Regions from separate parts of the Homo sapiens genome. Here region 2 is linked to region 1. Evidence: fine-mapped expression QTL. A gene starts in region 1. The other region holds a variant in brackets. All regions are shown on one strand. Distances are between the middles of the regions.

What was found. PIP is the estimated chance that this variant, and not a neighbour inherited with it, causes the effect.
Region 2: its variant is fine-mapped to the expression of EZH2 in nasal epithelium (TOPMed, PIP above 0.99).

Annotation. Positions count from the first base shown.
Region 1 is chr7:148,878,055-148,890,425 of GRCh38, reverse strand. EZH2 (enhancer of zeste 2 polycomb repressive complex 2 subunit) reads left to right here and starts at 6,135. Exons shown (of 20, transcript NM_004456.5): 1 at 6,135-6,262. LOC124901767 (a long non-coding RNA gene) reads right to left here and starts at 5,237. Exons shown (of 2, transcript XR_007060579.1): 1 at 4,943-5,237; 2 at 2,630-4,069. It also overlaps the pseudogene RN7SL569P. RefSeq lists silencers at 5,502-5,731, 5,852-6,221, 6,382-6,971 and an enhancer at 6,190-6,881.
Region 2 is chr7:148,898,452-148,910,822 of GRCh38, reverse strand. No RefSeq gene overlaps it. Among named protein-coding and RNA genes, the nearest start is that of EZH2, 20 kb to the right of the region's middle. The variant G/C (reference allele first, on the strand shown) is at 5,373.

The sequences.
Region 1 (12,371 bases):
TAACCTGGTCCATTTCCAACCTGGGTCGATTCACCCCTCCTTAGGCAACCTCGTGGTCTCTAGTTCCTGGAAGTTCACCATACTGATGCTCAACTTGGTGCAGACACCTGATCAACACAGCCCACTACAGCCCAGCACTCCTGGGCTCAAGTGATCCTCTATGTCCTCTCTTTGTACAGTATTTTTTAGTCTTTATTGAGCTTCTCCTTTGTTACAGCCCAGAATAGTGGTAAGTTCTTTGCTTCCCCAAATCCTCAACAGTCTTTTACAAGACAGGTGTCCCATCTGGAAAATGATACTCTGCCCAGGGGTTGTTTGTAACCATATTTTGGCCAAGTACTCCTCAGTTTCACACTTGAATTTGTTTAAAACAGCCAGGGAATTTCTAGATAGTCTAAAGGCTTTTATCTATTTTAGTCTACTTATTTTGTTTGATCAAATTTCTTTCTTAAACGTCTTAAAATGGTAACATCTTGATCAGTTTAGCTGAAACTCTGTTTGGGAAAGTGAGTAATACAATATGGCTGGAACTTAGGGTGGTGGAGCTATGAGATAAAGCTGAAATAGCAGCTTGTTACAGCCAGAGGAAGGGATACAGGAGCTGGGAGGTCACGATCTCCTCATTATGTGATTTTGGGGATAACATCCCATTCTTTTTGTGGCCATATCCTATTAGAAGCAAGTCAATAGGTCTAGCCCACAACAAGGGAGAAGATTACACAAGGCAGTGAATACCAGGAGGTGGTATTAATAATACGGGAGCATTGGCCAGGTATGTTGGTTCACGCCTGTAATCCCAGCACTTTGGGAGGCCGAGGCGGGCAGATCACCTGAGGTCAGGAGTTCGAGACCAGCCTGGCCAACATGGTGAAACCCCATCTCTACTAAAAGTACAAAAATTAGCCAAGCATGGTGGCGCGCACCTGTAATCCCCGCTACTCGGGAGGCTGAGGCAGAACCGCTTGAGCCCAGGAGATGGAGGGTGCAGTGAGCCAAGATTGTGCCACCGTACTCCAGCCTGGCCAACAGAGCGAGACTCTCTCTCAAAAAAACAAAAAAATAAAAATAAAAACAAAGCCAAAAAGGAGCATTTTAGAGGCTGGCTACCACACCTTCCTTGGGTTTTCTAGAGGTGACTCTTTCAAGCTGGTTCCGAAAAGGATCAGGTTAATTTCAATCACAACCAAAAATTATGTTATCTTTATGAAGGTTTCTCGACATGCCACACATCTCCTGACCCCAGCCTGGGGTGTGTTCCAGGCTGCAGTATAATGCCACTCTGGCTCTTCATGAGAGCTCATCCCTTCTCAGGCTTCTTGTATTGAGAACTGATACTTCTTACATGCAATCTTTCTTGTATCCTATATCCAATCTGTCAGGAAATTCTGTTGCTTATACCTTCAAAATATATCCAGACTCCACTTCCCACCAGCTCACTGCTACCACTTTGGTCTGAGCCACAATCATTTCTTGCCTGGCTTATTACAACGGACTCATCACTGTCCTCTCTGATTTGGCCCCGGCTCCGCTTCAGGATCCTTTCAACACAGGAGCTAGAATGATCTTGTTTAAATGATCAAATCGCCTTTCCACTCAAAATCCTCTCATTTTATAAAAGATAAAGACCTAACTATGGTCCACAAGGAGCTGAAAAATCTGCTTGTGCCGCCTCCATTCTTCAACATCATTTCCCACTTTTCTTCCCCTTCCTGTGCCAGAGCACATCAGCCACGCTTCTGCCTCAGGCCCAGGCACTGACTGGCCCTTCTCTCTGCCTAGAACAGTCTTCTCTCAGTAAATGCTCCCTCAGCTCCTTCAAGTTTTTCTTCATATGTCACCTTCAAAATGAGGGCTTCCTTAACCAAGTGGCTTTTAAAAAATTATTTTATTCCCAGGCTGGAGTGCTGTGGTCCCATCTCACTGCAACCTCCGCCTCCCAGCCTCAAGCGATCCTCCCACCTCAGCCTCCAGAGTAGCTGGGACTATAGGCACCATGACCGGCTAAGTTTGGTATTTTTGGAAGAGATGAGGTTTCGCTATGTTGCTCAGGCTGATCTAGAACTTGTGAACTCAAGTAATCCTCCCATCTCGGTCCCCAAAGTGCTGGGATTACAGGCGTGAACCACCACATCCAGCCCCAAGCTGTTTTAAAATTACAGCAATTGCACCCAATACTCCCCTCTTCCCATGCCTTATTTTTATCACCACCTCATGTTCGGTATAATCATCATTCACAGAGTAAGCACTCCATAAATGAGTGCTGTATAATATGTGGGAAGTAAATCCCATTTTTGGGGTTGAAAGGGAGGTTCTGAGAAGTGAAGGGATGGAAAGGGAAGTTTGCTGGCTGACAGCCTTAACTTTGCACTCCATCTTCTCCAGTTCCCCCAGGACAACCCTGAGAATCAGCTATGTGCCGGGCACGCTAGGCCCTGGGGTTACAACTTTGGGGCTTAACTGTTTTTCGTTTCATCTTTTAACTTTAATACCAAATCTTTGTTGTTCACACAGAACAATCTTTACAGAAATGAAAAAGCTTGGTGACCCTCAACCTCCATATCCACCTTTGTGTTTAGCCTGGCTTTCTGCTTCATCTAGGCCCCTTGAGTAACTGGCATTCACACACACACTTGCTTATATGTTTACTATTCATTACACACATTAAAAATTTTTTTTCCCATTGAAATAGTCATAGAGGTCTGTTAAATAGGCCTGTATATTTTCTTGCTTTCCTGGGTTAGACATCTTCAGACAGTTTTTCTTTTGGTAGCAAAAGCAAAATACTTCTTCCCCCTCCTAACTTTGCTGTATTTGTCATATACGGAAAGGAGTCGCGAGACATCATGAACCCCACATACAATGAAGTCCTTCTGGAATATTTTCAAATTATCCCCTTTTTCTGCCATTACTGTGGCCTAAACTACCTTGCTTAAATGGACAATGTCATCATTGAATCAAGAAAATACTGTGATCCACTGGCATCCCTTTTCACCTTAGCCTTCATATCATATTTATATTAAATGTCTGTTATATATATTTAGTATCATCCCACCTAGCTCTTTAATGGTTAGAGTCCAACCTACACACTCTTCCCAGTGGGAATGGCTGCTCTATAAAGTTCTTTGTACGTGTTTTTTTTTTTTCCTAACATTCACTTGGTGCCAATAATTATATTTTGTCCAATCACTTTTTTTTTTTTTTAAAGAGATAGGGTCTCACTCTGTTGCTCAGGCTGGAGCACAGTGATGTGATCATAGCTCACGGTAACCTTGGGATCCTGAGCTCAAGCAGACCCCTCACCTCAGCCTCAGGGGCAGGTGGGACCATAGGTACTTCTGTGCCACCACACTCAGTTATTTTTTAAATTTCTTGTAGAGATAGGGTCTTGCTATGTTGCCCAGGCTGGTCTCGGAGCTTCCCACCTCGACTTCTGAAAGTACTGGGGTTACAGGTGTGAACCACTAAGTCTGGCCTGGAATATCTTGATCCATCCATTCCTTGATTCTAAACGTCTAGCAATTTACATGACATTTCACACCATGTTGCAGAGTTATATACTGCTTTGATTTGCTTTATGGTAGTCTCTAATTTCGTTGATCTTCCTCTTAAAAATGCCTTGTTTTAATATTTAGTATTACAGGACTGATAAGTTCAGTAATTTGATAAGCAACTTAGGGATAAGTAGTTAATTTCTGAGGTTTAAATTGCTGGTTTTAAAAAATTGTAAATTGGTGGCCTAGACAGATGCATTTTATCTTGGAGAATGAATGTATTCGTGACTGGAAGTAATGGCAGCTATAATTCGTTACGTTATTTTACAGTCACATCTCAGCTGCATAACCTATTTACTTTTTGCAGTGTTATCACTGATTCACAAGACAATTTTGCTTTTATCTGGGCACATGATTGCTTGTTTCTCCTTATCTTTTAGCTTCCCTTTATATATACTTTCCAACATTGGAGTGATTCAGAATATATGTGAGGAATGGGATGGTGATTTAGGAAAGGCGGGAAAATTATGGGCTAAATCATCTGATGAAAAATTCTGGCCCAGCGCAGTGGCTCACGCCTGTAATCCCAGCACTTTGGGAGGCCGAGACGGGCGGATCACAAAGTCAGGAGATCGAGACCATCCTGGCTAACACGGTGAAACCCCGTCTCTACTAAAAACACAAAAAATTAGTCGGGTGTGGTGGCAGGCACCTGTGGTCCCCAGCTACTCGGGAGGCTGAGGCAGGAGAATGGTGTGAACCCGGGAGGCGGGGCTTGCAGTGAGCTGAGATGGTGCCACTGCACTCCAGCCTGGGCGACAGTGTGAGACTCCGTTTCTTAAAAAAAAAAAAAAAAAAAAAATTCTGGCTAGTTATTAAATTCATTAAAAATATTTCTTCAGATTTTTACCCCAACAGTTCATAGGTGACCTTTTTTCAGTTTCCAGTATGAACTCTCAATATGGAATCTCAGTTTACATGACAATGGTATTTTACCCCATAGATACATCCTAGTAAAAATAAATTCGGAATACTCTTAACTGCATTGCCACATGAAGCAATAGGAGAGACTGTATCCTAAGCAGAATCCCTCTAATTCCTCTGGGTTGAGGTAGCTTGACCCCCCATAACCAAGATCAATTTTTTTTTTTTTTTTGAGATGGAGTCTCGCTCTGTCGCCCAGGCTGGAGTGCAGTGGCGTGATCTCGGCTCACTGCAAGCTCCGCCTCCCGGGTTCACGCCATTCTCCTGCCTCAGCCTCCCGAGTAGCTGGGACTACAGGCGCCCGCCACCACGCCCGGCTAATTTTTTGTATTTTTAGTAGAGACGGGGTTTCACCGTTATTAGCCAGGATGGTCTCGATCTCCTGACCTTATGATCCGCCCGCCTCGGCCTCCCAAAGTGCTGGGATTACAGGCGTGAGCCACCGCGCCTTGCAAATATCCTCACACTTTGCAGAGGCGGCAAGTGAACAGTGCTCATCTTGATAAAGGATTTTTAACACTGACACGTGCTTAGAACTACGAACAGTGGAAGGGTCTGAAATGGCAGCAATGTCGCCCTTTCACAGGTTTCTAGGGCGATAAGCACTGCAAGCTCGGCCAGCCAAAGTCCAGCGGTGGGGGAAAAAACGGCCAAGGCAGCAGCAGACATAATCAAACAGGGCCCGGGTCGGCGGCGGTGGCTCACGCCTGTAATCCCAGCACTTTGGGAGGCCGAGGCGGGCGGATCACCAGAAGTCGGGAGTTCGAGACCAGCCTGACCAAGACCCGTCTCTACTAAAAATAGAAAATTAGCCGGGCGTGGTGGCGCATGCCTGTAATCCAGCTACTCGGGAGGCTGAGGCATGAGAATCGCTTGAACCCGGAAGGCGGAGGTTGCGGTGAGTCGAGATCGCGCCATTGCACTCCAGCCTGGACAACCAGAGCGAAACTCCGTCTCAGGAGAAAAAAAAAAAAGTAGTAACGGGTCCGGCGGCAGCGCGCGGGCCGGGCGAGCGTCTCCCGGCAAACGCGGCGCCACAGCTGAGCCGACCTCCGGGGCCCGCGCCCTCCCCTCCCCGGGCACCACTAGGAGCGGCCAGCCCGGGCCTCGGCTCCGCGCGCGGGGAAACGAGCGCGGCGGTTAAAACCGTTACCACCCCCGAGTTTTGAACTGGTTCAAACTTGGCTTCCAGCACCCGCCCCGCCCCTCCCCCGCCCGGGAACTCTGCGGCGCCGGTTCCCGCCAAGAGCCGCCGGCGCTTCGTCCCGCCCTTCGGCCGGTTCCCGCCACCTATCCTCCCCGCCTCCCGTCCGCGGCGGGCTCCGGGCCCCCGCGATGTCTCCCGGTCCCCGCGTGCCTGCACACCGCCTTCCTGAGAGGCGCCGTGTGTTCAGCGAAAGAACAAAGAGACGGCGGCGGCGCTTCCACACGGCCAGTGGCGTCCCTTACAGCGAACCCCGCCGCCGCCCGCGCGCGCACGCGCTGCCAGTGCCCGCCCGCCCACGAGCCCTGAGCGCACTCTGCGTGGGGCTGGCTCGGCGCCTCCGAGCCCGGCGGGCCCTGTGATTGGACGGGCGCCCGCCTCGCGTCCCGCCAATCGGGGCGGCGCTTGATTGGGCTGGGGGGGCCAAATAAAAGCGATGGCGATTGGGCTGCCGCGTTTGGCGCTCGGTCCGGTCGCGTCCGACACCCGGTGGGACTCAGAAGGCAGTGGAGCCCCGGCGGCGGCGGCGGCGGCGCGCGGGGGCGACGCGCGGGAACAACGCGAGTCGGCGCGCGGGACGAAGGTAACGCGCCGCTGCGGGCGGCCCGGCCGGCGGGGCTCCGGGAGTGCGAACCGGGCGGCGGCGGCGGCGCCAGGACCTCCCCGCCACTGCTGTGCCGGTCCCGGGTATCGCCGAGCGGGGCTCACCGGGGCGCCGCGTTTGTAGGCGTGCGGGGGGTGGAGGGTGAGGGGAGAGCCCCCCTCCCCGGAAGGAGCTGTGAGCTTCGGGCTGGCCCGCGGGACCCTGCGAGTGAGGCAGCGCACACCCCTGGAGCTGCGGGGCGGGGGGCGTGTGGGGGGCTCCTTTCCCGGTGCTTGTCCTGGCCGGGGCGCCGGGGCCGGGGTCGGGGCGTTCCGGTGCCCGGTCCAGGGTGGCAGCTCGAGCCTCAAGTCTCCTTTGTGTGGCGCGGCCGCGGCGGGAGCGCCCGGGTGGGACGGGACAGACACAAGTTGGTGGGACCCAGCCGCCGAGTCCGCACTCAGACAAAGGACGGACTGTGTCTCCGGAGGGCTCGGCGCGAGGGGAAGGGGCATGACACCCGGGCCCGCCGGCGGGCGGGAGAGGGGCGTGGGGAGGCGCGGGCCGCTGCCGGGGTGGGCAGGGCTCGGCCCTCGCCTCGCGCACGCCCCCGGTCCCGGGCGCGCCGACCCCGGGCTGGGGCCGCGGCGCTCGCGGGACGACGTTCGCGGCGGGGAACTCGGAGTAGCTTCGCCTCTGACGTTTCCCCACGACGCACCCCGAAATCCCCCTGAGCTCCGGCGGTCGCGGGCTGCCCTCGCCGCCTGGTCTGGCTTTATGCTAAGTTTGAGGGAAGAGTCGAGCTGCTCTGCTCTCTATTGATTGTGTTTCTGGAGGGCGTCCTGTTGAATTCCCACTTCATTGTGTACATCCCCTTCCGTTCCCCCCAAAAATCTGTGCCACAGGGTTACTTTTTGAAAGCGGGAGGAATCGAGAAGCACGATCTTTTGGAAAACTTGGTGAACGCCTAGTGAGTTGCCACTTTCTAAAGAATCGTAATCCTTAAACATTACAAGCTGTTTTGGCCAACTTGTGTGATACATCTGAGAATGGCGACAGGTGCTAACGAAATCAACTGTCATTCAGCCAGATTATTCCCCAAATCCCGACGGGTTGAATGAGGATGAGGTGGTAGAAGTAGGTGATCAAAATAGAATGGCTATGACAAATGTGTGTTTAGATTATACGGTTAGCAGTTTCTTATTAATTGGTCTCGTTTTCTGTGAACAATAGCTTTGGTGATTCAGAAAAGACTGCATGGAGAAATGTTTGTTGCCTAAGAAATTTAACGTGTGCTGTCCACAGTTAAACTTCCTTTATCACACAGGATCTGTAACATTTAAATTCATTTGGAAATAAAAATGTGTCTTTGCTATTTACTTAAAGGCTTGCTTTTTAGGGTTCAAGCAAGTTATTATTAGTTTAATTTTGTGGCGTTTTGATGTCATCATAAAACAGCATTTAATAAACCTTTGAAAAACACGAATGCTGTCACAATTGAATGTAGTTTATACTTTTAGGGGTTTTGGAGTTTATTTTCTATTACTCTTCATAAGCATTAGCAACTAATTCATGTTTAGGAATACTGTACAAGTGTGTAATCCTAACTTGTTTATTTGTAATTTTATTTGCAGGAAAACAAGTATTTAAGATATATTTTAATTTTCTATTCATGGTCTCTAAAGTTAGGAATAGGTAGGATTCTAGTCATAGATATAAAGCGTCTTGTTCTCTCTTTTCGGAGGTGTGTTGGGTGATGTAATATTTAAGGTTTCCCGGAAACAGGAACACTGCATCTTAAATTCTCGTTTTTGTGGAAAGTGAATATATTCCAAGAAAACAAGTTAGAAAAACATAGGCGTTCTTCTGGTTGCACTGTCCTATATGATAAAGATCTAATGTGCATCTGCTAACTTAAGGTTTCATAAAAATGGAGACAAATAAATGCAATATAAATTTATTACATATATTTTGGAGAGTGTTGACACCACTGTACGGGCATTCCAGGTGCTGGTCTAAGTGTTGAGACATTATAACAAAAAAGTAACGTTTATATTAGTTACTATTAATTCTGTATTTAAAAAATCCTATTAATAATCTTGTCCATTATGAGATAAGGTAGTTATGCAGATTTTTGGCAGAAATTCGGATATTTTAGGATACATATGTGTGTGTGTGTGTGTGTGTGTGTGTGCGCGCGCGTGTGTGTGTGTGTATATGTTTTTTTTTTTTTGAGACAGAGCCTTGCTCTGTCGTCCAGGCTGGAGTGCAGTGGCTGGATCTGGGCTCACTACAATCTCTGCCTCCCGGGTTTAAGGAATTCCCCTGCCTCAGCCTCCCGAGTAGCTGGAACTACAGGCACGCACCACGACACCCGGCTAATTTTTGTATTTTTAGCAGAGACAGGGTTTCACCATGTTGGCCAGGCTGGTCTCGAACTCCTGACCTGAAGTGATGTACCCGCCTCCGCCTCCCAAAATGCTGATCCAGACGTGAGCCACCACGCCCAGCCTAGGATAAAAATTTCTAACTTTGCCCTTGAGTGTTCTCTGTATTTGATAATTACTATTCTTTGTACTTGCCATGAGATATTTTGAAAAACATCTCTTTGGGGAATTGGTTTAAAAATTCATATTAAATTATTTTCTGGTACAATTGAGAATGTATTTAGTCAGTTTAAGTAGCAGTGACTTAAAACACACTTGTTGATCTAGTGTAGTTAGAAAAAGTTCTGATACTTTGATACCTAGCTTTGCCTTGCACAAATACATTTAAGTGAATATCTTTATGTTGGCCATTTAAAAATTTTAGGCAAATTTCTCCAAGTCATACTGGAATTTTCCCAGGATACCTTCCTTCTTTTGAGGTAGTGTGCTCAAGGATTCTGAATTTATTTCAGTATTACCCTTTACATGAGCAGTGATTGAGAAAGTTGATCTGCTTTTTAAAAACCAACAAGGACAAATCCTCCAATATAATGTATTCTGTGGTTAATTAGCAATGATTTATGGATTAGCCTTGAAGTCTTTATATCAGTATAGATGACAAATTTTCTGTAAATCATGATAGATTCTATATGAGTAGGTGAAATCTTCGGGGGAGAGCATAAGTGAACAGCAGCAATTCATTAAATTCAGAGAAAGGTTCATGGTCAGATGATACATACTTTACCTTCTGGAGGTCTTCCCTGAATTCCCACTCTTGTGTTCCCACAGGGTTTTATCATATTTTATTGTAGCATGACTCAATTGTATTGTAATCACTTGTTTATGCATCCCTCTCTTCCCTACAGTCAAAGTGCCTCCTGGTAGAGGCTCTGTCTTATTTTTTTCTTTGTATACCTAGTACCTACGTTGGTATTTGCTAGAGAATAGGGGTTTTAAATATAGTTGAATGAATTAAGGAAATATGAAAAATGTAGGGAAATAATTTGACAAAGGAACTTGCAAAGTGAACAGGATATGTTAGTATTCATGTGAGGAACTTTGAAATGTGTTTTTCTCCCTCTTTAATAGGGAATGATTACAAAGAAAAATAGTTGTCAAGGTGAACAAGTTCCAAGTTTTTCCTAGTTATAATCTGTAGTACTAAACATTAGATATCCTTTAGATGCAACTATTACACTCGGACAACTGGAGAGAACTTGATGAATCATCTGGATATTTAGTAATAGTATTTGCTTAATTTGATTTAATGTTGATATTGATGATCTCTTTGCAAAAATATAAGGAAGGGAAAGGGCGAGAGAGGGTAGTAGATCTTTTAACTGAAAAGCTGTTTTGTTATAATTCATGAGTTCTTTATTGGAGTAAATTGAGGTAGGTTTTGGAGCTAAAACTGAAGGATGTAGCGACAGTGTAATTGGATCATTTATTGGGATGCTTTTCATCATTCTTTTAAAATGATTTAAATACAGATTAGCAAATTTAGTGATACCTCAAAAGTTACAGCTGGTAAATTTCTAAGATAGTTGCACCATTCCATATCTTGCCACTGTTCCACTACTTGGTATAAAAATATGACAAATTTGTGTTTAGATTATGTGGTTAGCAGTTTCTTAATAATTGGTCTTGTTTTCCATTAACAATAGCAAGACAGAACAAGATCATAGCTCACTGCATCCTTAAACTCCTGGGCTCAAGGGATCCTCCTGTCTCAGCCTCCTGAGTAACTGGTATTACCAGTGCACACCATTGTGGTGACTTATTTAATTTTTTAATTTTTTGTAGAGATGGGATCCTGCTTTGTTGCCCACGTTGATCTCAAACTCCTGGCTCCAGGCAATCCTCCTGCCTTGGCCTCTTAAAGTACAGGGATGACAGGCTGAGCCATTGTGTTTGACCCAGATACTTTTTTTTTTTGAGACGGAGTCTCGAAAGTGATTCTTGTGCCTCAGCCTCCTGAGTAGCTGGGACTACAAGCGTGCGCCACCACGCTCGGCTAATTTATTTATTTATTATTTATTATTTATTTTTTTGAGATGCAGTGTCACTCTGTCACCTAGACTGGAGTGCAGTGGCACCATCTTGGCTCACTGCAACCTCCACCTCCTGGGTTCAAATGATTCTCCTGCCTCACCTCTCAAGTAGTTGGGATTACAGGCATGCACCACCAGGCCTGGCTAATTTTTGTATTTTTAGTAGTGATGGGATTTCACCATGTTGGCCAGGCTGGTCTCGAACTCCCGACCTCAGGTGATCCACCTGCCCTGGCCTCCCAAAGTACTAGGATTACAGGCGTCAGTCACTGTGCCCAGCCTCCGATAATTTTTATATTTTAGTAGAAACTGGGTTTCACTGTGTTGGCCAGGCTGGTCTGGAACTCCTGACCTCAAGTGATTGACCTGCCTCGTCCTCCCAAAGTGGTGGGATTATAGGTGTGAGCCACCACACCCTGCTGTGTTGTTTTTGTTTTTGTTTTTTGTTTTTGTTTTTGTTTTTTGATATGGAGTCTCACACTTGTTGCCCAGGCTGGAGTGCAGTGGCGTGATCTCGGCTCACTGCAACCTCTGCCTCCTGGGTTCAAGCGATTCTCCTACCTCAGCCTCCCGAGTAGCTGGGATTACGGGAACGCACCACCACACCTGGCTAATTTTTGTATTTTTAGTTGAGATGGGGTTTCACCACGTTGGCCAAGCTAGTCTCGAACTGCTGACCTCAGATGATCCGCCTGCCTCGGCCTCCCAAAGTGCTGGGATTACAGGCGTGAGCTACTGCGCACGCCTGGCCTGGATACTTTTTAAACATTTTTAAATTAAAAATTTTTTTTTGGAGACAGGGTCTTGTTGTCACCCAGGCTGGAGTGCAGATGCGTGATCTCAGTTCACTGCAACCTCTGCCTCCTGGGCTCAAGCGATCCTTCCATCTCAGCCTCCCAAGTAGCTGGGACTACAAGTGCATGCCACCACGCCTGGCTAATTTTTGTATTTTTTGTAGAGACAGGGTTTTGCCATGTTGCCCAGGCTGGTCTTGAACTCCTGAACTCAAGAGATCCACCTACCTCAGCCTCCCAAAGTGCTGGGATTATAGGTGTGACCCACTGCACCCAGCTTTTGTTTTTAATATTTGTAAGAACCACCTTGTGTCTGCCAACAGGCGAATTAACAAAATGTGGTATATAAACCAATGAAAACATAAAAGGAGTGAAATAAAGACGTAAAAGGAGTGAAATTTCAAAATAAAAGTAAAAAGATTTCAAAATAATTCAGACATAAAAGGAGTGAAATTCTGATACATGGATGGAGCTGGAGAATATTATGCTTAGTGAAATAAGCCAGATACAACCTTTTGTACAAAAATACAAAATTGTATGATCTCATTTATATGAGGTAGTTAGAAGAGGCAACTCTATGGAGACAGAAAGTAGAATAGAGGTTACCAGGGCTGTGAGGGGAGAGGTGAATGGGGAGTTTAATGAATACAGAGTTTCTGTTTGGAATGGTGAAAAAATTCTGGAGATGGATAATAGTGATGGTTGAACAATATTTTGAATATATTTAATGCCACAGAATTGTACACTTAAAAATGGTTAAAATGGTAAATTTTACACGATATGTATCTGTATCTATATATATCTCTCTCTATATCTATATATCTTACCAGAATACAAAATT
Region 2 (12,371 bases), 20 kb before region 1:
GTTGATGCCTGCAGTCTTGAGAGATGGAGCTGTGAAAACTTCTGTATTCCCCCTCTTTCTTTCTCCTTTCTGAACTGTAGGAGGTGTGGGAGCTCTGAGTCTTGGAGCCATTTGTGTCATGTCTCTGTCTTTAGATATTCTTTTTCCCACTGTGTGGGCCTGAGGAGGCCCCTGGAGGCTGCAGCAGTGAGGCTGGACCATCTTGGTTATCTGGTTCCCTTTCCTCTGACAGGGTAGGTGAGCTTTTTATGAGCTGGAAGGTCTCAGGTGGTGCTAGCACCTGCAAGGACCACCCTCTGGAAGACAGATTCCTGCTACCTGTTTGGGGGAGGATGTTTAGAAGAAAGAAAGGCTGCTTAGAAGGGTGCCAGAAACAGGTGCTTAGAAGAGAGAATGGTGCAGCAACCATTTGGAGAGGGCTGCTTTTGGGTTCTTGCTCTCCTTGTGGGGTGGGGGTGGGGGATTGTGAGGCTGTGGCTTTTTTTTGTTGTTGTTGTTATTTTTGAGCTGGAGTCTCACTCTGTCACCCAGGCTGGAGTGCAGTGGCATGATTTCGGCTCACTGCAACCTCCACCTTCCAGGTTCATGCAATTCTCCTGCCTTAGCCTCCTGAGTAGCTGGGATTACAGGTGCCTGCCACCCCGCCCGGCTAAATTTTGTATTTTTAGTAGAGACGGGGTTTCACCATGTTGGCCAGGCTGGCCTTGAACTCCTGACCTCAGGTGATCCGCCTGCCTCGGCCTCCCAAAGTGCTGGGATTACAGGTGTGAGCCACAGTGCCCAGCCGGGGCAGTGGCTTTCATATTGTACATGTTCAAGCCCTTGAAGACCTTTGGTGGCATCAGGGACCACCCAAAGGGAGGAGTGAGTTAAGAAGGGGGGGAAACTTTGGACCCCTTATTTAATTTTTTTTTAAACAGACTTTATGTTTTTAGAGCCTTTTTAGGTTCACAGCAAAATTCAGTAGAAAGTGGAAGCTTCCCATATACTCCCTGCCCTTTGCCCCACTCCCCCAGCCTCCTACACCATCAACATCTTGCATCAGAGCGGTGCGTTTGTTACGATTGATGAAGATACATCACATGTCATTATCACCCACAGGCCATAGGTTAATTAGGGAATACTCTTGGTTGAGTCATAATAGTAGTTTCACTGCCTCAAAAATCCTCTGGGCTCTGTCCCTGCCTCCTCCCAGATCCTGGCACCTGCTGATCTTTTCACCGTCTCCTTAGTTTTGCCTTTTCCCTCACCGCTTTTCGACCAGAGCTGATCTGTTTTCATGTTGGTCTTTTGTTTAAAAATTCATTCGAAGACTAAATTGTACTACTTAAAAAGAAAAAAAGGAATAAGGATACAAGTTATCAGGCAGTCCTATTCCTTGTTAGCTGTGTGATCCTGGGAAAATCACTTCACCTCTCTGAAAGTCAATATTTCATCCACAGAATGGGAGGAATGATGGCTGTCTCGCATCAATACTGTTAAATATGGAAAGTATCCGACAAGCACCTGGCGAATAGCAGAGGCTCAACAAGGACAGGTTTCCTCCCTCTGCTCATCCTGCTCCTTCTCCCATTCAGTCACTGAGTTCAGCCCGTTTCGTCTTTAGAGTTTAGAATTTCTCTCTTCTCATCCTCATCACAACTCCTTTCTGGTTCAGGCTTGATCTTATTCAGAGTGTCTACAAACAATGATTATCCCACACATCTGTGCTTAACGCTCACCTTTAATGCAACAAAATGTGTAGATATTGCTTGGCAATTTGGAGATGAGTGTAGGTAGATTCCTAGGGGTTGGCCGGTGAGTTCTGCTGGCTGTTCCCGAGTGCCGCTTTCTGGGGTCTTTTCCTTCACTCTGACAAACTGCCAGGGGACTTGGGTGGTTCCTGTAAGGGGCTTTCATGGTGGTGGCAGGCTATCCATTTAGAATTCCACTTCCCAAATTCCTTACACACCAAGCTATTACACTAGCTAGCACTAATCTCACAAGATACAGTGTAACAGCAAACAACCACACCACACACACATAAGACCTTAGCAGGGTAGCTTCCTGGATGGTGTCTCCTTAAATTCTCACCTTTGGGTGTCTTTTGAATAAGCCCTTCCAAATAAAAGGCCCTCATTCTGTCTCTCACTGGGACTGCTCTGTCATCTCCGGAGTGGTCTCTAGCCCTGCCCCCAATCCGGGATTTGAGAAATAGGTCCTAAGATGAGCAGAATTGGGTAACTGACTGGAAGCTGGAGATGAAAGAAAATGTGAGGGTGAGTCCAGGAAATTGTGGCAGTGTCACCAAGTAGAGCAGGGAACACAGGAGGACCCGCAGCCCACAGGTGTGGACCCCGGGCAGGCTGCCGGATATGTGCATATAAAGCTGAGTGAGTCCTTTGCGGGAGGCTTGTTTTGATCCACCTGATTTTCCCAGCCTACCTCTTTGGAGACATCTGTTTCCTCTTATTTCCAAGGTCTGGGGAGGGAGCAAATCATTCTCACCCCATGTGCTGTCTACAAGACAATTCTTGTATGGCTTGGCATTTAGTGTGATGCCTTATGCTTTGTGGTGCGATACATCTAGTGTGTAGAAACGTGAAATACTGGTTTATCCTTTAGCTGAACTGACTAGTTGTGTTTTGATACTGTGTATTCATGCATATTACAAATACACACACATGGCTGGGCGTGGTGGCTTATGCCTGTAATCCCAGCACTTTGGGAGGCCGAGGCAGGTGGATGGCTTGAGGTCAGGAGTTCAAGACCAGCCTGATCAATATGGCAAAATCCCTTCTCTACTAAAAATACAAAACTTAGCCAGGCATGGTGGTGCACGCCTATAGTCCCAGCTACTCAGGAGGCTGAGGCAGGAGACTCATTTGAACCCGGGAGGCTGAGGTTGCAGTGAGCCAAGATGGTGCCATTGTACTCCAGCCTGGGTGACAGAGCGAGACTGTCTCAAAAAAAAAAAGGAAAAAAAAAAAAAAGAGAGAGAAACAGAGGGTGAGAAAGAAAGAATGCTAAAGCCAGTGTGGTAAAATGTTAACAATGGGGAATCTGGGTGAAGGATATATGGGAATTCTTTGTACTATTTTGCCAACTTTTTTTCTCAGTCTATAACTTTTTCAAAATTGAAAAGTAAAACAAAAATTAGTTTAATATATGCTATAGGACCCTTTAAGGACTGAAACGGGGTGGTGGAGGTGGGGTGTGTGTGTGTGTGTGTGTGTTGGTGTTGGAAGTGGGTAGGGAGCACCAAAAACTTGATGGCATCAGCTGTAAGGAAACTGGTGATCACCCCACATAATCGCGGATAGTCACCTCAGCTGCTCAGTTGTTTTGAGAAACAATCTTTTTGCTTTTTCTAGATGCAAAGAGGTATAATTGAATAAGTCACAGCAGAAAATGAAAAGATGATCTGTTTTCTGTTACAGCGATTGTGAAATGCACATAGATCTCAGCCCAGAAGGAATCAATTTGACTAACGTAGATGTAAAATCAAAATTAATAGAACTATAATCCCTTTGGTGATCTGCATTTGTTCTGAATGATCTTATCAAACGTTCCTGGTGAGACAGGACACAATATGATTGCTAAGACACCAGGAGTGGGGAGGGCAATAAGTCAGATGGAGAGAAGATACTAGATGTCATGTGCTTCCCTTGCTTAGAGAAAATGGATGAAGTGAGATTGAGATACCAACTGTAGAGCCTGGACTGCCGAACCAGGATCCTGACCTTAGGAGCCCCTTCGTGATGTGAATACACCGGCTCAGACTCAGATGTGTCCAGAGCATGTGGTCCTGATTTGTATCAGGGCACTGGAGGCTTATGAATGATCCCCAGACTCAAAGGAAACAGAGCACCCTTAATTACTTAAGTCTTGTTAAAGTCCAGTACCATCTGCTCCAACAGGTAGGTTTCACCAGGAAGACAGTCAGGGAGGGTTGCTTATGCAACAAGTGTTTATTAAGTGCCTTCTATGTATAAGGCACAGTGCAGAACGATGGAAATAAAATGGAGAATAGGATCTATACCATCGGAGGACTCATAGGCTGGAGGCTTCTGACCAAGGAATTCCCATACAACCCAGTTTCTCCACGTGTAAAAGGGGAGACCTACCCCCCTCACATGCTAAACATGAGATTAAATGAACTGAGGCCAGGTGCGGTGGCTCAGGCCTGTGATCCCAGCACTTTGGGAGGCTGAGGTGGCCGGATCACCTGAGGTCAGGAGTTTGAGACCAGTATGGCCAACATGGTGAAACCCTGTCTTTACTAAAAATATAAAAAGTAGCCAGGCGTGGTGGCACATGCCTGTAGTCCCAGCTACTCAGGAGGCTGAGGCCCGAGAATTGCTTGAACCTGGGAGGCGGAGGTTGTAGTGAGCAGAGATTGCGCCACTGCACTCCAGCCTTGGCAACAGAGTGAGATGCCATCTCAAAAAAAATAAATGAATTAAAAAAAAAAGAATTGATATATGTAGAGCAAGCAGTAAACACTTGGCATATATCCAGTGCTCAGTAGTTGCTGGTTCCCCCTCTGTCTCTTCTCCAGGGTTCTCTCCTACCTGAGCCGTCTTTGGTTACTCTGAATCTTGCCCACTCTGGTCTGTCCCGTCAGGATAGTTCCACGGACCTAACTCTTGACCTTCTGCTGTTGTTTTAACCCAGATACCCTAAACAACGCCTGAACTTGTCCTTACAGTGCCTCCCACCCTTGTACTAAGACCTCTCACTATAGGGCTGACATTTATTTGGTTAGGAAAGCCATCTGGCTTTAAAATGTGCATATATCTGGGCTGCAACAGCGATTTCAATTTGTAGATTTCACCATGGTTGTTCTGTGAAGCAGTGTTCAGGTTTATTAATTTTATATGCATTGGAGTTTTTGAAATTGTTAGTTCGTATGTATGGAAATAAATTTTCATGAAACGAACCACAAGTTCTGTTATATAGGACGTCTTTAATACCACAGTAAAATAGCTTTTAGATTACTAGAATGTCAGGTTTCTGCTAAAAATTTGTGTCACAAAAGGGAAAAAAGAAAGCATGGATGAAATACAAAAAGAAAAAATAGATGTGAAGTTACTGTAGTTTTGATTATGTTTAGAGGGCAATTTTTACGGTTTTCCCAGGGACCCAGACCTTTCTCCATCCTACGAAGAAGGCCTGTAAAGGTTGGGGTGATTTATCTCAATTCCACTGGTGCTCAGGAGCAACCTAGGCCAGCTGGAGTCGAGCTAGAGGCTGAGCCAGAAGGAAATAAGAGGCCAAAGTAAGGGCTGCAATTGCAGGCAGCCTCCAACAAGCACCTGGTTAGGTAACTGGGCTCAGACGTGGAGGAAACAGGATCTCACAGCCTCCGGGTTGAAACCTTAGCCCAGACC[G/C]GCCCAAGATGGAACCCAGCTGAGGCTCTGCTTGCTAATGAGCCCTGCCTGCTCTGTGGACCAAGGGTGGAGGAATATTGATGTTTCAGCTTGATGGTTTTCACTGAAATCACATCAATGGCTGTCTGCCTGAGAAAAGGCAGTTTAGGGTGCTCTTTTCTCCTTGGAGTTAATTTTCCCATCTGCCCCAGGCCAGAAAGCCACGGGAGATATTTCATAGCTGCTTACAGAATGATTCAGGTCTTCACAAAATCAAAACTATTAATAGTACAAAGTACAGAATTCAGCAGAAAGCAAGAAAACGAGCCATGGAGAATGTCTGTTGTTAGAGAAGCAATGTGAAGAGTTGAACCAGAAGCTTAGATATTTAAAAAAGCACAAAGTTGCACGTGATACTGCTTTACTGGGACTGACAAGGAAATAAAATGGAAAAGCAAATTATCCTACTCCAGTCAAAAAAAAAATTATTTTCACATATTTCCCACAATTTTTGTTCTACTCCCTTTATATACTTTTCTCTCTGCCTAAGAATGAATTTTGAATCATCATTCTGCTGCCAGAAATTTGTCTCACATTACCAAGTGTGTTTGCAAAGTAAGGATACTGATTTCTGCAAATCACGCCTGAGAATCAATGTCATTATTTCATAATCAAAGTATGTACACTATCTGTTTAGCAGATATAATTAGAGACATTGGCAATCTCTGATTTTACTTGTCAGAATATGGAGTTTGGACTTATTTCAGAACTTTGCATTTTCAAAATAGTTTATACTTCTAAAAGTAATCTTACCTTATTTAATAACTTAATATTATCTGCTGCCCTGCCCCCATTTGATAACCCAAGTGAGATTATCACTAGATTGTCTCAGATTATAAATTCTTTGTCAGCAGGGATTAGACCCCTGCAGTTTCCTGTATATAATATTTTGCAATTAGATGTTTGATAGTGCTTTGAAATAGGAACTCAGTTTTTAACTTTTGGTCTTTTTATTTTCAACATAATGAACCATGAAATAGTGAAAATTCCATTTTTCTTGTTATACGATTTTAGGCATTGTCATTTTTTCCAGTTACAAGCTCAGTTACAGAGAGAAGGAATTATACTACCTCTTACAGAATCAGCAACCAACAGACTCACAACACAACCAACTGGAAAAAGCAGAACAACCCAGGAGCTGTATACTATGGAAGACCAGGTTGAAAGACTGGGCTGACTTTAGGTCGGCCTTCTTCATGTAGTCACCCACAGATGGGTTTTAGGAGCTCTGGACATCCCCCAAAATTCCTTGTTGGAAAATTTGGGGGTGAATTAGTGTCTGTTGCTTACTCAGATGCTCAAAGAAGCTCAGGTATCCCCACTTCCCTCAAAAAGGTAAAATCACAATTCTGTGTTTTCTGTTTTCCTGCTTCCATTAGATTGAGAAGGCAATGTGTTTAAGGGCAGCTAAGGCAACGTGCAGATGATGCTTGGGTACCTTAGAGTCATTTCCTCTCTTCTTTCTGCTAACAGAACCCTGACTTTGCTCAGGACAACAGTGTGCCCAGCCTGAGGAGATCATTCTTGATATTTGAAATCATGACAAGCTCATTCTCTTTCCTTGTAAATATCCCAGCTGCCCTTTAAGCTAGGACATGTGTTCCATGGACATGTGTTGCCTTTCTTGCCAATAAGATGCAGAGAAGTCTTCAGGGAGGCTTCTGGAGAGCTTCTGCTTTCTTGATACATGATAAAGTAGGGGCTGACTCAGTCCCTTCCCCTTCTTTCTGCCTTGAATTTGCATGTGATACTTGGAACTACAGCAGCCACCTTGCAACCATGAGTACACGCATGAGGATGATAAGCCAATATGCAAAATGAGAAGACAGAAAGAGCCTGAGTCTAATGAGTTTTTATGAAGCTGGCAGACCAATCCTGATATGGACTTTCTCTGAGTTTCTTGTTAAGTAAAGAGTAAACCATCCTTATGACTTAAGCTATAGTTAGTAGAGGGTTTCTGCTACTTGCAGTCAAATGTGGGCCTCAGTGGATACAGTGAATAATCTTTTATGGCTTAAAATACAATAAATTGATTCTGTTAAAAAGTACCACTAGATGATGTTTTTCAATGAATTCTGCGAACTATATTATTTTGCTAGTCTTCTAACTACGCCTGCAGGAAGTGCAAGGGAAAAATCAGGAGTGAATAGAGTGATCACCTGCGTTTAAATGGTATTCCTCCTGATATAAAAAAGAGTGGATTTTATCTTATTTTTGGTCTGTAATACTCAATGAATGGAAATAGTTATATAGGCAGAGACTACACCTCTACTTCCAACTGACATGGACATTGTTTCTATGCTTTTCTGCTCCAAAGATTTCTTTTTCTTTTTCTTTTTTTTTAAACTTTAATTTTAGATTCAGGGGTATAGGTGCAGGTTTGTTACATAGGTAAACTCGTGTCATAGGGGTTTCTGGTACAGATTATTTTATCACTCAGGTTAGTAACCAAACAAGCATTTATAACTTGATAAAATTCTTGTACTATTTCATCATATTGCCTGCATACAGGTATAAAAGAGCAACTCATTTATTAAGGTTTAAATTTTTTGGCCGGGCACGGTGGCTCACACCTGTAATCCCAGCACTTTTGGGGGTGAAGGTGGGTGGATCACTTGAGGTCAGGAGTTCTAGTCCAGCCTGGCCAACATGGTGGAACCCCATCTCTACCAAAAATACGAAAATTAGCCAGGCGTAGCAGTGCACGCCTATAGTCCCAGCTACTTGGGAGGCTAAGTCAGGAGAATCGCTTGAACCTGGGAGGCAGAGGTTGCAGCGAGCCGAGATCGTGCCATTGCACTCCTGCCTGGGCAACAGGGCAAGACTCTGTTTCAAAAAATAAAAATAAATAAATAAATAAATGTTTTTGTTTGCTCTCTATATATATGTTTTTTGAGACAGAGTCTCGCTCTGTTGCCCAGGCTGGAGTGCGGTGGCATGACCTCGGCTCACTGCAAGCTCCACCTCCAGGGTTCATGCCATTCTCCTGCCTCAGCCTCCCGAGTAGCTGGGACTACAGGCGCCCACCACCATGCCCGGCTAATTTTTTGTATTTTTAGTAGAGACGGGGTTTCATCGTGTTAGCCAGGGTGGTCTCAAGCTCCTGACCTTGTGATCTGCCCACCTCGGCCTCCCAAAGTGCTGGGATTACAGGTGTGAGCCACTGTGCTCAGCCAAAAAATTTAAACCTATGCCCAGCTGTTTGCATTATATTTTTTATGTGTTGTAAAAAAGCTGGCTGGGCATGGAGGCTCACATCTGTAATCCCAGCAGTTTGGGAGGCTGAGGTGGGAGGATCGTTTTAGGCCAGGAGTTTGAGACCAGCCTGGGCAACATAATGAGACCCTGTCTCTATGAGAAAAACAAAAGAAAAAAAAGAAAAAAAGCCTATTTGGACAAGTAAACCACTTGGAATTTTAAAATCAACTTCTATTGTATTCAAAGATAAACCATTTAAAAATATCAAGGAAGGAAAAAGCCACTGAATTAAGTTAGCATATTCTCCTCCAATAAATTTAATTATATGTATTTCTATAAATTTACATACTACTTCATATGCATTTATGTATATATTTGTGGATTATTACTTTCATTTTTTAGAGACTGCGGTCTTGCTATGTTGCCTAGGCTGGTCTCAAACTCCTGACCTCAAATGATCCTCCTGCCTCAGCCTCCCAATGTGCTGGGATTACAGACATGAGTGACTGTGGCCAGCCAGATTATTACTTTTTTTTAAAAACAGCTTTATCTACAGTATACCAAAGGTGACAGGGTTGGATATTTATCAGTTAGTACTGCTGTGTAACAAACCCCTCCAAAACTTAGTTTAAACAGCAAAGGTGTTATCACTTGTGACTGCAGGTCAGTTGGTCTAGCCTGGGCTTGACTGGGCATGACTCCACACTGAAGGTTGGTTCCAGGCCTGTCTCACTCTTCTTGGACCAGCAGGCTGGCTGGGACTTGTTTTTCTTATGGCAATGGCAGGGCTGTGAGAGGGTAAGAGGACAAGCCAAATGTGCAGATGCATTTCAAGCCTTTGCTTGTATCACGTCCCCTGACATGCCATTGGCTAAACTGAGTCATAGGGCCAAGCCCAGCATTCATAGTGTGAGGAAATAGACCTCACTGCCGGGCGGGAGGGACTGCAAAGTTACATGGCCATGTTCACAGGAAGATCCAAGGGACAACAGGTGAAAACTAGAATGCAGTGTGAGGGAAGAAACACTGGTAACAAAGGCCAGCTTCTGACATTGTTCCAGCTCAGTTTTTAGAAACTGACAGAGCTAAGAGTTAAAGAAACTATCTTAGGAAAGAGAGATGCCTGGTACTCCTGCCACAGAAGATAAAATTCTTCATACTGAACATGTTTAGGCAATGCTTAGAAGAATTACCTTGACAATGCTTTTAGAAAGATCACCATTCACTACTATTGTACTCATGTCCCTTTCTAGAGTGAGCCTAGTATTTCTATGTAATAAAGAAAATTGTTTTGTCATTGTTTTGCCTTTCTGTTATGCCAGAATTGTACAGATATTGTTTTTACAAAATCCATAATACATATATACATTTTTTTGGTGGAGTTTTTTGCTCTTGTTGCCCAGGCTGGAGTGCAATGGTGCGATATCGGCTCACCGTAACCTCGGACTCCCAGGTTCAAGCAATTCTCCTGCCTCAACCTCCCGAGTAGCTGGGATTACAGGCATGCACCACTGTGCCTGGCTAATTTTGTATTTTTAGCAGAGATGGGGTTTTTCCATGTTGGTCAGGCTGGTCTCGAACTCCTGACCTAAGGTGATCCACTCGCCTCAGCCTCCCAAAGCGCTGGGATTACAGGCGTGAGCCACTGCGCCCGGCCATATGTTAATGACCAATTTTTTTTTTTTTTGAGATGGAGTCTCGCTCTGTCACCCAAGCTGGAGTGCAGTGGCGCAGTCTCGGCTCACTACAACCTCTGCCTCCCGGGTTCAAGTGATTATCCTGCCTCAGGCTCCTGAGTAGCTGGGACTACAGGTGCCTGCCACCACACCTGGCTAATTTTTTGTGTTTTTAGTAGAGACGGGGTTTCACCATGTTAGCCAGGATTGTCTTCATCTCCTGACCTCAGGTGATCCGCCTGCATCGGCCTCCCAGAGTGCTGGGATTACAGGCGTGAGCCACTGTGCTCGGCCATGACCAATATTTTTAACAATTAGGAGCCAAAATAACAGCCATGTTCTTCACATGCAGTATTTCATATTAATCTTCACAGCAACTCTGTGAAGTAGGAATTATGTATTATTATGTTTTATATTATTTCTGTTTTACAGATGAATTGAATCTTAGGTTAAGTAACCCGCTAAAGATCACACTTAACAAACAGGATTTGAACATAGTTCATCTTGGGTGGGCTGGGTGGCTCATGCTTGTAAACCCAGCACTTTGGAGGCCCAGGCAGGAGGACTGCTTGACCCCAGGAGTTTGAGGCCAGCCTGGGCAACATAGCAAGACCTCACCTTTCTTTAAAAAAAAAAAAAAAAAGAAGATGAATTTTGATCATTTCATTTAGGATCAGGACCCACAAGCTTAACAGGACACACACTGCTTCTTGTATCCCCTATGTGAAAACAGTGCCCATGCTTTTGTTGTTCTAGTGCAATTTGGCACATGAAACCACAACCAAACTGAGACCATGAAATATACATGCTGTAAAATAAAATAAGTTACGCATCTCTGTTTCAGCATTTTGGGTGTCATATCACCCCTGTAGTCCCAGCTATTTGGGAGGCTGAGGTGGAAGGATCGCTTGAGCCCAGGAGTTTCAGGCTGCAGTGAGTTATGATCACATCACTGCACTCCAGCATGGGTGAGAGGGCCAGACCCTGCCTCTTAAAAAAACGAACAAACAAAAAATAAATCATTATTACAACTCTTTTTCAGTGTTGGAATACAGAAAATAGCCCATCTAGTTTGCTTTTGAGCACTCTATCCTGCAGATCTTGGTTGATTGTTGGAAGAATGCATTTTATGGAACACATGTTAATTTTCTAAGGTTCTGAGCTCTCTTATTTACCAGGGCCAGCAATATCACTGGCCTCATTGGCTTCTCAAACCAGTCTGGCCTGGGCTAGCCACGCCCACGGTGGACTAGCGATCTGAACTCTTGTTCCCTGTTTTGGCAGGTCCCAGCCCCAGGACCCCTTTTCCCGTTGCTCAGGACCACGGAGGAGTGTGTAGGCAGCTGAGTCCCCACTGCTGCTTTAAAATGTCTATTTTTTCCTCTCTCATTCTTGATCATGTTCTGCCTACTTTTCTGAAACCTGGTGTTAACTCAACACACAGAGAAACATTTGAAGAAACTGCTCACAACTCAAACCCAGAATTAACCCTTTAGCCTTCAGCCCCACCCTTTGTTTGCTCATGGATCTGAACAAAGTAATCACTGGGTTTTTAAATGTTTTCAAGAGTCATGAATTATTGTCTTAATTGTTTTAAGCTATAAAAATTAATTCTTTTAAAAAGGGTATTCTTAAAAATCCTTTTGGTACGAATGGTAACAGTAGAACAAACACATCCATTTAACCTAAAAGAGTTTTCATGTAATAGCAAGTCAACAATTATTCATTCAACTAGCATGTGATTTTTTCTTCTTTAACAAGAGTGGTACGGTTTTGTGGGTGCTTTGGGGATGGCTAATAAACATGAGAGGACATACCTGGTTGATCCTGACAGTAGCAAAAGAAGAAAATAATAAATTTTAAAAAGAAATAGGAGGATTGTCAAGGCCTCTGCTGGGGTGGGTAGGGGAGGTGGAATTCAAATTTTTGAGTAACTGACAACGGCACAAGCACTGACCACTCAGAATGGACACTGGTCACAAACAGCCTGTGTGGCTGTATTGGTGTCACCTTAACATTAAATGGGTCAACTTTCCTTTGGTGCCAGCACTAACTGGTTTCCAGCTCCAACACCCCAGCTCTGGCT